Homo sapiens: one gene and its partners. The protein of the gene in region 2 purifies or fractionates together with the protein of the main gene of each other region. This does not show direct contact. Each region holds a gene or a part of one and is shown on either strand. Other genes may lie near its edges.

Region 1 (3,650 bases), on a different chromosome or scaffold from region 2:
CTTGCCGTTTCGGTTTATATACAATTCATTCTTAGGTGAACGAACAAATGTAAAGCACTTTGAAAAAAAAAATTCCTTTGCAAGTCAGTTACGCTGTGATGCTTTCTTCTAAGTTTGAACTATTTTAAAAGTATTTTCATACGATGAAATCTAAATATCTTCAGCAACTTGAGCAGGAAACACCAGACTCTAAATTAGGTATCAGGTCAGGACTAATAGCAAGCAGAGGAAAACAATCTGAATTCATCAAGTAGTAAGACAAGCTGGATTTTAAACCAGTTCTAACGTATTATGAAATCTGGCAGCAACTTCATAACATTAACTTTATATGTAAATTTCTCTTGAGCCTTTTTCTTCCTTTATTTTAGGACGCTATCAACTAAAATATTCCTGGAAACCACTGACTGTTTTTACATTAAAGATACCAACCACTTACCAGCATGGACTGCAGGATGCAAAGTTTTCACACGTCCCCCCAACATTTCAGGAAATCCCGTCAACTCAGAGACATCTCTGAAAAACAGATAAACAGAATGGTACTACTGGTGTGGCTGAATTGTAATTTTCACTATTCAAAGCATCTACTGTTTTCATTTCAAGAGATTTTGAGCCTGAATTCAACGTGAAAATTCTGATTTTTTAAAGTATTTCACTATATTTTATTTCTTAAGTAAAATTCTATTTACTTCCGAAAAAAAGTTTATTTAATTTATTTCCTAACTGTTGTGTATGTTCAGGGATAATTGGTAACTACTACAGCACTGGTTTTATAATTTTCAGAGCATTTAGAAACTGAATCATAAGCCATACTCATTAAATATTACTAAGACATACAACTGAGAATTTGGCAGTATGTAACAAAAAGCATTAAAAATATCCTTGGCCGGGCACGGTGGCTCATGGCTGTAAACCCAGCACTTTGGAAGGCTGAGGCAGGTGGATCACCTGAGGAGGGGAGTTTGAGACCAGCCTGGCCAACATGATGAAACCCCAGCTCTACTAAAAAAATACAAAAAATTAGCCGAGCGTGATGGCGGGCACCTGTAATCCCAGCTACTGGGGAGGCTGAGGCAGGAGAATCACTTGAACCCAAGAGTTGGAGGTCGCAGTGAGCCGAGATCATGCCACTGCACTCCAGCCTGGGCGACAGAGCAAGACTCCATCTCAAAAAACAACAACAACAACACATGAAGATGGCATATCAAGTGAGTGAAGACATAAAAGACTGTTTAATAAAGTGGTGTTGCTATTGGAATAACGGGTTAAACCCAAACAAAAATATATTCCTTATGAATCAAAGGTTTAGCATTTAAAAAATCATGCATGTAGCAAAATTAAATATGTGAGGAATGCTTTCCAAGTTTTAAACAAAAGATTGAGAGTTCTGATTACAGAAATGTTAAATAAAAAGTTTTACATGGGAAAAAAAAGTAAACTAGAAAAAATAATCACACAATGTGACAAAGGGTCAAGTGAAGGACAGTAAATATTAATCCATATCACAAAGCAGACCCCTAGAAAGTCGTAACCACGAACACTCTGGCAGACTTTATAAGTTGTAATGGTGTGTAAAAATGCCCACAATATATAAGAAAAAATAAAGCAGGGGCCAGGTGGGGTGGCTCACACCTGTAATCCCAGCACTTTGGGAGGCCAAGGCGAATGGATCACCTGAGGTAAGGGAGTTCCAGACCAGCCTGACCAACATGGTGAAACCCCGCCTCTACTAAAAATACAAAATTAGCCAGGCATGGTGGGGCATGCCTATAATCCCAGCTACTTGGGAGGCTGAGGCAGGAGAATCGCTTGAACCCGGGAGGCGGAGGTTGCAGTGAGCCAAGATTGTGCCACTGCATTTCAACCTGGGCAACAACAGCAAAACTCCGTCTCAAAAAATAAATAAATACATAAAAATAAATAAAGCAGGAAGCAAAACTGCATCTATCTTCTGTGTAAGCTATGAAATAAAGTACATGCTTATAAAAATGCTTGAAGAAAAATATACTAGCATGTTAAGAATTACAATCCATTTTTACTACCTTCTTTATAGTTGTCCATATTTTCGAATTTTCTACAATCAACATATATAGTTTTTGAGATGGGATCTCACTATGTTGCCCAGCCTGGAGTACAGTGATTATTCACAGGCAAGATTACAGTCCATGGCAGCCTAGAACTCCTGGGCTTATTAAGTAATCCTCCAAGTAGCTGAGACTATAATAAACACTTTAAAGCAGCAAGTTCTGCCAGTAAGATACGGAATTTCCTGGGTAGATTCTCCTGTTAAGGGGAGCCATTTGCAAATGACTGGTGTTTGACCAATGACACACACAGTTCCAACATCCACAAACTGGTGACATAAGTGTTTTCAAATTCAAAATTTCTTTTCCTGGGGTTCAGGAAATAAAATCCATTTCCTCCAAATGAAGACAGTCACTTAAAACTTAGAGAAGGCGGATTTATTTCTAGAATTAAACATTTGGGGTAATTAAAAAGCTTGCTACTCCTTTGAACTGAAGAATTTATACATAATGGCTGTAGTCTCGGGAAATAATTCTATGTATGCTCACTGCTGTATACTCACTAATTAAAATCCATCAGTTTACCTCATGACAAGGTAATGGTTAACTTCCTGGGATAAAATTATTGCAGATAACAACACCCAAAAATATGCTCAGAAGCAGCCTCAGAACCAAGATCTTTTTTTTTTTTTTTGAGACAGTGTTTCTCTCTGTCATCCAGGCTGGAGTGTAGTGGTGGAATCTCGGCTCACTGCAACCTCCACCTCCTGGGTTCAAGCAATTCTCCTGCCTCAGCCTCCTGAGTAGCTGGGATTACAGGTGCACGCCACCACACCCGGCTGATTCTTTTTTGTATTTTTAGCAGAGATGGAGTTGCACCATGTTGGCCAGGCTGGGCTCAAACTCCTGACCTCAGATGATCCAGCAGCCTCAGCCTCCCAAAGTGCTGGGATTACAGGGGTGAGCCACTGCGCCCAGCCAGAACCAAGACCTTGTCCAGGCATGGTGGATCACACTTGTAATCCCAGCACTTTGGGAGGCCAAGGCAGGCAAAATTGCTTAAGCCCTAGAGTTCAAGACCAGACAGACAACATGGTGAAACCATCTCTATGAAAAATACAAAAATTAGTTGGGCATGCTGGTGTGCAGCTGTAGTCCCAGATACTCAGGAGGCTGAGGTGGAAGGATTGCCTCAGCCTGGGAGATCGAGGCTGCAATTAGCCATGATTGTGCCACTGCACTCCAGCCTGGGTGACAGAGTAAAACCCTCTAAAAAAATATATATATATAGCTTTCTCCTGCCCTCTTGCCTCTCACCCTTCATTCTTCCCTGAAGTCACAGAAATGAGAATTTCTCTTCCCCAGGGCAGTTTACAGAAACTAAAACTCTTTTTCCCCAAAGCCAGTCATAAGATTTAAACTTATGATTCTAACTTTCCACTGGCTTTCTGTCTAGGAGCTGGACGTAAAGAAATCCTCTCATCTCCTTGCCCATTAGTAGGTCAGGAGATCCTTAGGGGGTGGAGAAAGAATTTTAGAGAAGCCAAGAAGAATCTGGACAGACAGGCTTTCCTGGCTTTCTCCACCTCAGTCTACTAGCATACACCATATCCTTGCTGTCCAATCATA
Region 2 (3,750 bases):
CAAGACTCCATCTCGAAAGAAAAAAAATGTATATACTTTAATGCAATGGGATACAATGTAATGTTTCAATACATTGTGGAATGATCAAATTAGGCTAATATATCCATCACCTTACATGCTTATTTCTTTTTGGTGAGAATATTTTAAATCTACTCTTTCAGCCATTGCGAAATATACATTATGAACTATAGTCACCATGCTGTGCGATATTTCTAAAACTTACTCCTGAAACTTTTTACCCTTTGACCAACATCTCCCCATTCCCCATCTACCCCCCAACACCCCCACAACTGTCTTTCAAAGACAAAAGAATTTCACCTCTACTAATGAAGCATTTATGTAGAAAGACACTGGTAATGTTTAGTTTCCTTCATCCAACCTGCTGCATCTTGTAAGTTCCTGGCAAGCAGAGTTACTTTAGGTCATTCATATTTATAACCTCTCCTTGCCTGCGGTGGTTATTATAGCAACCACACCTATGGATTATCACCTAACTGGAGTTTCCTCCTCACAGGCCCCACCCTTCAATGTTCAGAGAGGGGCGATTGCCCCAGATTTTATTTAATTGTCAGAGTTTAGGAGGGAGCAATTCACTCTTCCCTACTTCCACTCCATCTTCTCAATCCTACATTTCCATCACTTTTAATTTTATTCTGCCTTGCCTCTTTTTTTATATTTTACATCTTATTTTTGAAATTGTCATTACCATGCCTTGTTTTAAGAGTACACAAGCTCATTATAGTAAAGAGTTTTGGGTGATAACATTTTCTGAAATAAGGGTGAAGAAATATCCTCCCATGTCACAACCGTTGGGAGGGCGGGGGTAGGGATGTTGGAAGGCACGGTCCCTGCGGCTTTCAAGGACAAGACAATTAAGTGTTCCGGTGCTTTTCTGAGGCAGAACATTGAGCATCTATTTATGGTGACTGTGACAGTGGAGGTGATTGGTAAATTCACCGCAGGCCAATAACCTTGCCAGCAGCCATGAGGAGTGGCAAAGAATTCTGCAGAAGAGCAAGTCCTAAGCACACAAAACAGCTCGGAAAGTGAAAGCGTCGCTGAAGTGCGGAAGCCTCGCATTTCCTGGGTCCTCTTCTTCCTTCCTTTGCCGTCTCCTGCCCTCCCGTTCTCCCCCTTCCTCTGTGGCTCAGGCAGGACAGACCCCAACTCCCAGCTTCCCTGGCCTCCGCGGGTTCGGAGACTGGGACCCCCGGGCCAGGAGTGCTGGGGGGCGCGGTCGGCCAGCCCCGGCTTCCTTCATGGAGCGGCGGAGCTCCACCTCCTCCTCCGCACTGCACTTCTCACATCCTCAGCATCGCGTCCACGAGGCCGCCCGCCCCGCCTCAGAACCGTAACCTCCAGGAGCTGGGTTGAGGAAGGCGCGGAGGACAGGAACCCCAGCGCCGGCAGCTAAGCCTCCAGACGGAGCCCGCCCCTCCGGCCGGTTCCTGCCTCCAATTGGCCCGCGAGCCCGTCCGTCTCCACCGTGGGCCACGCCTTCCGGGCCCCGCGGCTGGCCGGCTCCTCGCGCCCTCCCCTCTCTCGGCCGCTCTTCGGGCCGCCTCTGCGTGTGGGGCCGCCCGCGCCAGTGTGAGCCTGAGCTGACGGCGGCTCCGGGAGGCTCGCAGAAGGGGAGGGCCGGGCGGCGCGGGAGCTGAGCATCGCCAGGGCGGGCGGCAGGGCGCGGCCTCTCCGCCGGGTGTACCACCTGTCGCGGCGCGAGACCTCTGGTAAGGCCCGGCGCGGTGGGGCCCGGGCGGGGGTCCGGGAGAGGAGCGGGCGCCGGCCTCCCCTGGCCCGGCCCCGAGAGCCCAGCGCTGCCGCGCCTCCGGCCTCCGCGCGTGCGGCCCCCGCCGTTCCCGGCCTGGCGGTGGGGGCTGGGGGAAGGGAAGCGGTCTGCGGAGTCCGGGCTGAGGGCGAGGGACCGGCTACATCGCGGCGACCCAGGTTCCAGCGGCCGCGGCTCTACCCGGCGCGCGATTTCCAGGTTCCTCCGCCGGCTGGTGCCTGGGCGCCCCGCTCTCGCCCGGGAGCGAGGCCCTGGGCCTCCAAACGCCAGCATCTCTTTCTCGCTCTTTCTGCACCCCTCCACAAAAGGACTTCTGTGGCTGGAAACCCTTTGGCAAGCCTATCTCCTTTATTCAGTCGGGCCGAGTTAACGGCAGGAGTTAGGCTGTGTGTGTGGCTCCTCCCTTTAAAAAAAGACTTGCTGCGGGCTGGAGAGTTCTGAGATTGGACCGATTCCGTCTATTATTAAATGCCATCTGTGGACCGGGATTGGCAGGTGTTTCTTTCACGCTGGCGATAACTATCTCTGCATGTGGTGTTACCTAGGTGGTCCTAGGTTTCGACTTTCTTTTTTGGTTCCAGAGATAATTCTAGAAAATTTACGTTGCTTGTGGTGAGAAGCGTGATCAAATTAACACGTGCTTTCTTACAAAACGTTTTATCATCTTCTGTCTGTGGATTTACCTTCCTGATGCTTGTGGCTATCACCTCTAAGCAAAGAGGTTAATAGCATTGCTATTTCTGTTAGTGTTGCAGTTGATAACGATAACAATAGTAGCATGTATTAATTGCTAGTGACAGGCAGAGCGCTAGTTTCTACACGGATTATCTCAAAATAACCCTTTGAGGTTGATACTGTTACTGCCTCCACTTTACAAACCAGGAAACTAAGGTTTAGGTAGGTTAAGTAACTTGCCTAAGACCACAGTTTTAACGTGACAAAGCCTAGATTCAAACTCAAGTGGTCTAACTTCATAGCTGCATCCTCCACCCCCACTCCCTTAAACGTGTATACTCCTTAAGCATTGCTCATGTTGTTAAGCTAATTGCGATGTTGTACCCATAATTTTGATTTTCAATTTACAAATACTCTGTAAATTAGATGAGAGAAACAGTTGTTTTTAAAAACATACATATAGGCCGTTCGCGGTGGCTCACGCATGTAATTCCAGCACTTCTGGGAGGCCGACGTGGGTGGATCACCTGAGGGCAGCTAATTTTTGTAATTTTAATAGAGACGGGGGCTTCGCCGTATTGGCCAGGCTGGTCTCGAACTCCTGACCTCAAGTGATCTACCCACCTTGACCTTCCAAAGTGCTGGGATTACAGGCGTTAGCGACCGCGCCTAGCTCCTAATATGACTTTTATCATGCATTAATAGGAAATGTTGGGCTATGCTTCTGTAGAAATATTCTCTTGAGAATAATATATTTATGCTTAGTAGCTATTTCTGAGAACTGCTTATGGGTGACACCCTTAGAGGGTGTTTATATGTTTTTGTCTTTTAATATATTTATGAAAACAAAATATTCATAAAGGAAAAAACCCATTTACCATTTGGGAACTTCTTTTGTAAAATTAAAAACTTACAGCTATGTATGTATAATCTGTATATTAAGTTAAAAACTCTAATTGATTTTGGTGAATTTCAGACAAACTAGACATATTTTATTCTCTTTAAGACGGAGTTTTGCTCTTGTTGCCCAGGCTGGAGTGCAGTGTTGCGATCTCCACTCACTGCAACTTCTGCCTTCCGCGTTCAAGCGCTTCTTCTGCCTCAGCCTTCTGAGTAGCTGGGACTACAGGCATGCACCACCATGCCCGGCTAATTTGTGTGTGTGTGTATTTTGAGTAGAGACAGGGTTTCACCATGTTTTTCAGGCTGGTCTCGAACTGCTGACCTCAAGTGCTCCACCTCCTTCGGCCTCCCAAAGTGCTGGGATTACAGGAGTGAGCCACCAT
Region 3 (3,750 bases), on a different chromosome or scaffold from region 2:
GTAAAGAGTGATGGCTCTCCGAAGGAACTGAATGTCTAGGGACAAAGGAATTACCTATGGTTTTTTGTTTTTGAGACAGTGTCTCACTCTGCCACACAGGCTGGAGTGCAGTGGCGTGATGTCAGCTCACGACAACCTGTCTCCCAGGTTCAAGCAGTTCTCCTGAGTAGCTGGGACTACAGGTGTGAACTATCATGCCCGGCTAATTTTTGTGTTTTTAGTAGAGACGGGGTTTCACCTGGCACCGGGTCTCCAACTCTTGACCTCAAGTGATCTGCCCACCTCAGCCTCCCAAAGTGCTGGGATTGCAGGCGTGAGCCCCCGGGCTCAGCTCTGGAATTTATTAAATATGTATCTATACCCTGACACTGCTGGTTACTGTCTATAATCCGAGTGTTTTGGGAGGCTGAGGCAGGAGAATTGCTTGAGGTCAGGAGTTCGAAACCAGCCTGGGCAACATAAGGAGAGCCCATCTCTTTAAAAACAAAACACACACACACACACACACACCAAACAAACCCATGTATTTACTGCAGACCTACTTTATTATGCACCGTGATGTTTCAAGTATCACAAACCATTACAAAGCAATATAATCACCCTCCTTCCCCCTTACTGCTTCAAACTATTGTGGTAAAAATAAATAAATAAAGCCCTGGCGTGGTGGCTCACGCCTGTAATGCCAGCACTTTGGGAAGCTGAAGCGGGTGGATCACCTGAGGTCAGGAGTTCGAGAGCAGCCCGGACAACATGGCGAAACCCCGTCTCTACTAAAAATACAAGTTCGCGTGGTGGCGCGCGCCTGTAATCCCAGCGCGCCACCACGCTGGGGGACGGAGTAAGACTCAGTCTCAAAGGCATGACGAAAATAGCAAAAATGCTTTAGTGTTATACCTGTTACGAATTTAATGGAAATTACAAGTAGGAGCCCATTACAATCTCTAGCCTTAAAATGCTGAAAACATACACAGTGTGACAATAAGTAAACTTCGAGACCCAATAAGGGGGAAAGTCCAACGTGGAAAGTATTTGGTAGGAGTGAAGAACAGAGTGACAACTGCTTAGTCCCACTGGATATTTCGCTCCTCTTCAGGAAGAATACTCCAGTTTGGGGAGGCCATATCCCGGGCCAGCCAGTTAAAATCGTCAACATCGTTCCAGTTATTTTTGCTCCTATCTAAACCAGAGCTCTCGAAGTCCTTGTCGATCTCCGGGTAGCTCCAGGTGTAAGGGGCGAACTGGATCCCACTGCAGTCCTCCACGATGGCCCTGCTGGTCACCTGCAGGAAGATGCGGGTGTCTTTCGTACTGTGTATGCGGAGCTGTTGGCAGGCCACTGCCAGCACGCAGTCACTGCAGTCCTCCAGGAAAACAGAGGTAGACACCGGACCGCAGAGCAGCTTGCAGCTGTGGGCCTTGGTTAGCCGCAGGGTGTTGGGATTTCCATACAGTCTGACCGTGCAGTTGCTCAGTTCGGTCAAAAGAACGTCGCGCTGGTGCAACTCGCTGGCTCTCTTCTCCAAGACTTGGGACTCCAGGTTGGAGAAACCGCAGACCCAGCTGGGGCCGAGGTCTCCTTCCGCCTTCTTGGGCAGCGGGGAGTCCTGTATGCTTTCAACTGCCGGGGGGATGCCAGGAGCCGCGTCTACTTTGGTAGACGAAGCAGCATCCTTTCCCCGGGTCTTGAAAGCGAAACGCTTCTTGGGCTGCAGCCCCCGGCGCCGCTCGGCCAAGGCCGCCTGCAGCCGCGCCAGCGCCTCTTGTCCCTGCCGCAGGTCGTAAGCGGCTAGGAAAAAAACTGAGTCGTTGATTAGTTTCTGCAGCCCCTGGAGCCGAGAGGCCGCCTCCTCCAGCCGCTCGACCGACTCCGCGCGCTCCAGAAGCTCTTCCACGGCCGCTCGCTCCCGAACAAAGGTGGCGACGAAAAAGTGGCTGTTCTCCTTCTCTACCTCCTGGTTCTGCCGCTTTTGTTTCCGCCTTTCAACTTCCAGCTGCCGTTCTTGTTCGCGTCTCTGAAGCCGCTCAGGCACCAGGCTCAGGTCCCGCTGGGACTCCATGTCTCCGGTCCTGACAGCAGCAGCGGAGCAACTGACGGACTCCATATTGGCTTCAAGCTTCCTCTCTCTTGTCTTCCTTCCTCCGGGCGCGCTGTCCGTGAGGCCTCCCACCAACGCGTCCGGTGATTGGCCTAACATGATGATGTCAGATCCCCGGCCTTATTTTCTTCGCCTATTGGTTCCTCTGCGTCGGAGGGGGCGGGGAGATGGGGCGGGGCCGACTGACTATGGGGGTGGGAAGACAAAGGTTCTTGTGGATGGGTGGGGTGGGAGGCAGGCGGGGGAATCTTTTTTTTCCTCTTAAAGGGGCAGGACTTATATCCGGGATTGTGGGGTGAGTTGCAGCAGCGGCAGCTGCACATGTGGGTTTGTTTATAAGAACAAGGTTAGAAACTCGCAGGCCTCCCCCTCCCCCCAGCTCCTCCCTACTACCCCCTTACAGGCCGGAGATCCGCTACTAGGGGTGTGGGTGGGAGGGATGAGTGCGTGTGGTGGGTTGGGGGGACAGGTAGTGGTGAGAAAGATGGAGCGGGGGGGAATATTGCACCGCCTGGCCCGCGCCGGAGGAAGCAGCAGCTGGAACAGCTGGCTGGGGAGCCGCTTGCATGCCTCCGGTTTTTTCTTTTCCCTTCCACCACCCCTTCCCCCAACCCATTTCTGCCTCCCCGTAGCCCTCATCCTTACCGCCCCCCTCCCCCCTATCCACTGCAGTTCGGCGCGGCCTGGGGGCTCCTGGATCCCCGCAGGCAGTTACTAGGGCAGGAGAAGGCAAGGGGCACTGCGATGGGAGAGACTGGGTTCCTCACTGCAACCTGGTTCGAGGGGCCCTGGGGGAGTCCATAAAAGGATTACTATTTTTTTGGCCAATTGCTGCAGTCGGAGGGGTGGGGGCGGGGGAAGGTGAGATCCACACCCCCTTCCTCTTTCTTCCCTGCCCTCCCCGAGCTCGGTCCCGGCCACTCCCTCCGCAGCTGGGCGTCGCCGGCCGCGCTGGGGTGAGACCCTAGCCCCGGGCTCCGTGGCTCTCTGGGGCGGTCGGTCTTAGGAAAGCGGTGGGAGAAGCGGTACATTATTTCTAGGGGTGGTGGGAGGGATTTGTCACCGGAAGTGAATGGCCTAGCCTAAAGTCGGGACCAACCCGAGGTGTGGGTGGGCAGCCAAGACGGCGCAGTCACTGGCAAAAACCCGAGGCAGCGGGCAGGGCGAGAACCCGAGACGCAGCCGCTGCCCGGGCGCGGCAGCCTCGCATGCTTCGCTCAGATCTGCGGAGCTCCCGAACCTCTTTAACCCTGCCCGCCCTTCCAACCCTAGGTTTCCTCCTTATATCCCCAGTTCCCAGCCTCCATCGTTTAAATTGGGGTATTTAACGACCCAAGAAACTTGAAATTTCACCGATCTACCTGCATTTTGATGCAGAGAAAGATGGGAGGAAACGCGAACCATTGAATTAAATCTGAGTTAAAACTGATCTCCCATTTTCACGCCCCACTCTCTTCCTTTCCTTCCCACTTAAAACAAACAAAACACACATAAATTGCTGGGCCAGAGTATTTCTCCGCTGAGAGCACAGTTCATACCGTGTGGCAGATTCCCCGCGCAGGCGGGGCGCGGGGGCAGGGGAGAGGCTTGTGTGTCCGCGTGCCTGCGTGCACCCGATGGAAAAGGGGGTGCCGAAAAACAATGGTGCTTACTC

What was found.
Region 1: the proteins of ME2 (region 2) and ATIC purify together in Homo sapiens (co-immunoprecipitation; one large-scale study listed by IntAct). This does not show direct contact.
Region 3: the proteins of ME2 (region 2) and TBCC fractionate together in Homo sapiens (co-fractionation; one large-scale study listed by BioGRID). This does not show direct contact.

Annotation. Positions count from the first base shown.
Region 1 is NC_000002.12:215,315,020-215,318,669, reverse strand, and holds part of ATIC (bifunctional purine biosynthesis protein ATIC), read right to left. Parts: intron 514-3,650; coding exon 437-513; intron 1-436. UniProt on the Homo sapiens protein: Bifunctional enzyme that catalyzes the last two steps of purine biosynthesis.
Region 2 is NC_000018.10:50,877,579-50,881,328, forward strand, and holds the start of ME2 (NAD-dependent malic enzyme, mitochondrial isoform 1 precursor), read left to right. Parts: upstream 1-1,539; 5' UTR 1,540-1,730; intron 1,731-3,750.
Region 3 is NC_000006.12:42,743,972-42,747,721, forward strand, and holds TBCC (tubulin-specific chaperone C), read right to left. Parts: upstream 2,133-3,750; 5' UTR 2,103-2,132; coding exon 1,062-2,102; 3' UTR 527-1,061; downstream 1-526. UniProt on the Homo sapiens protein: Tubulin-folding protein; involved in the final step of the tubulin folding pathway.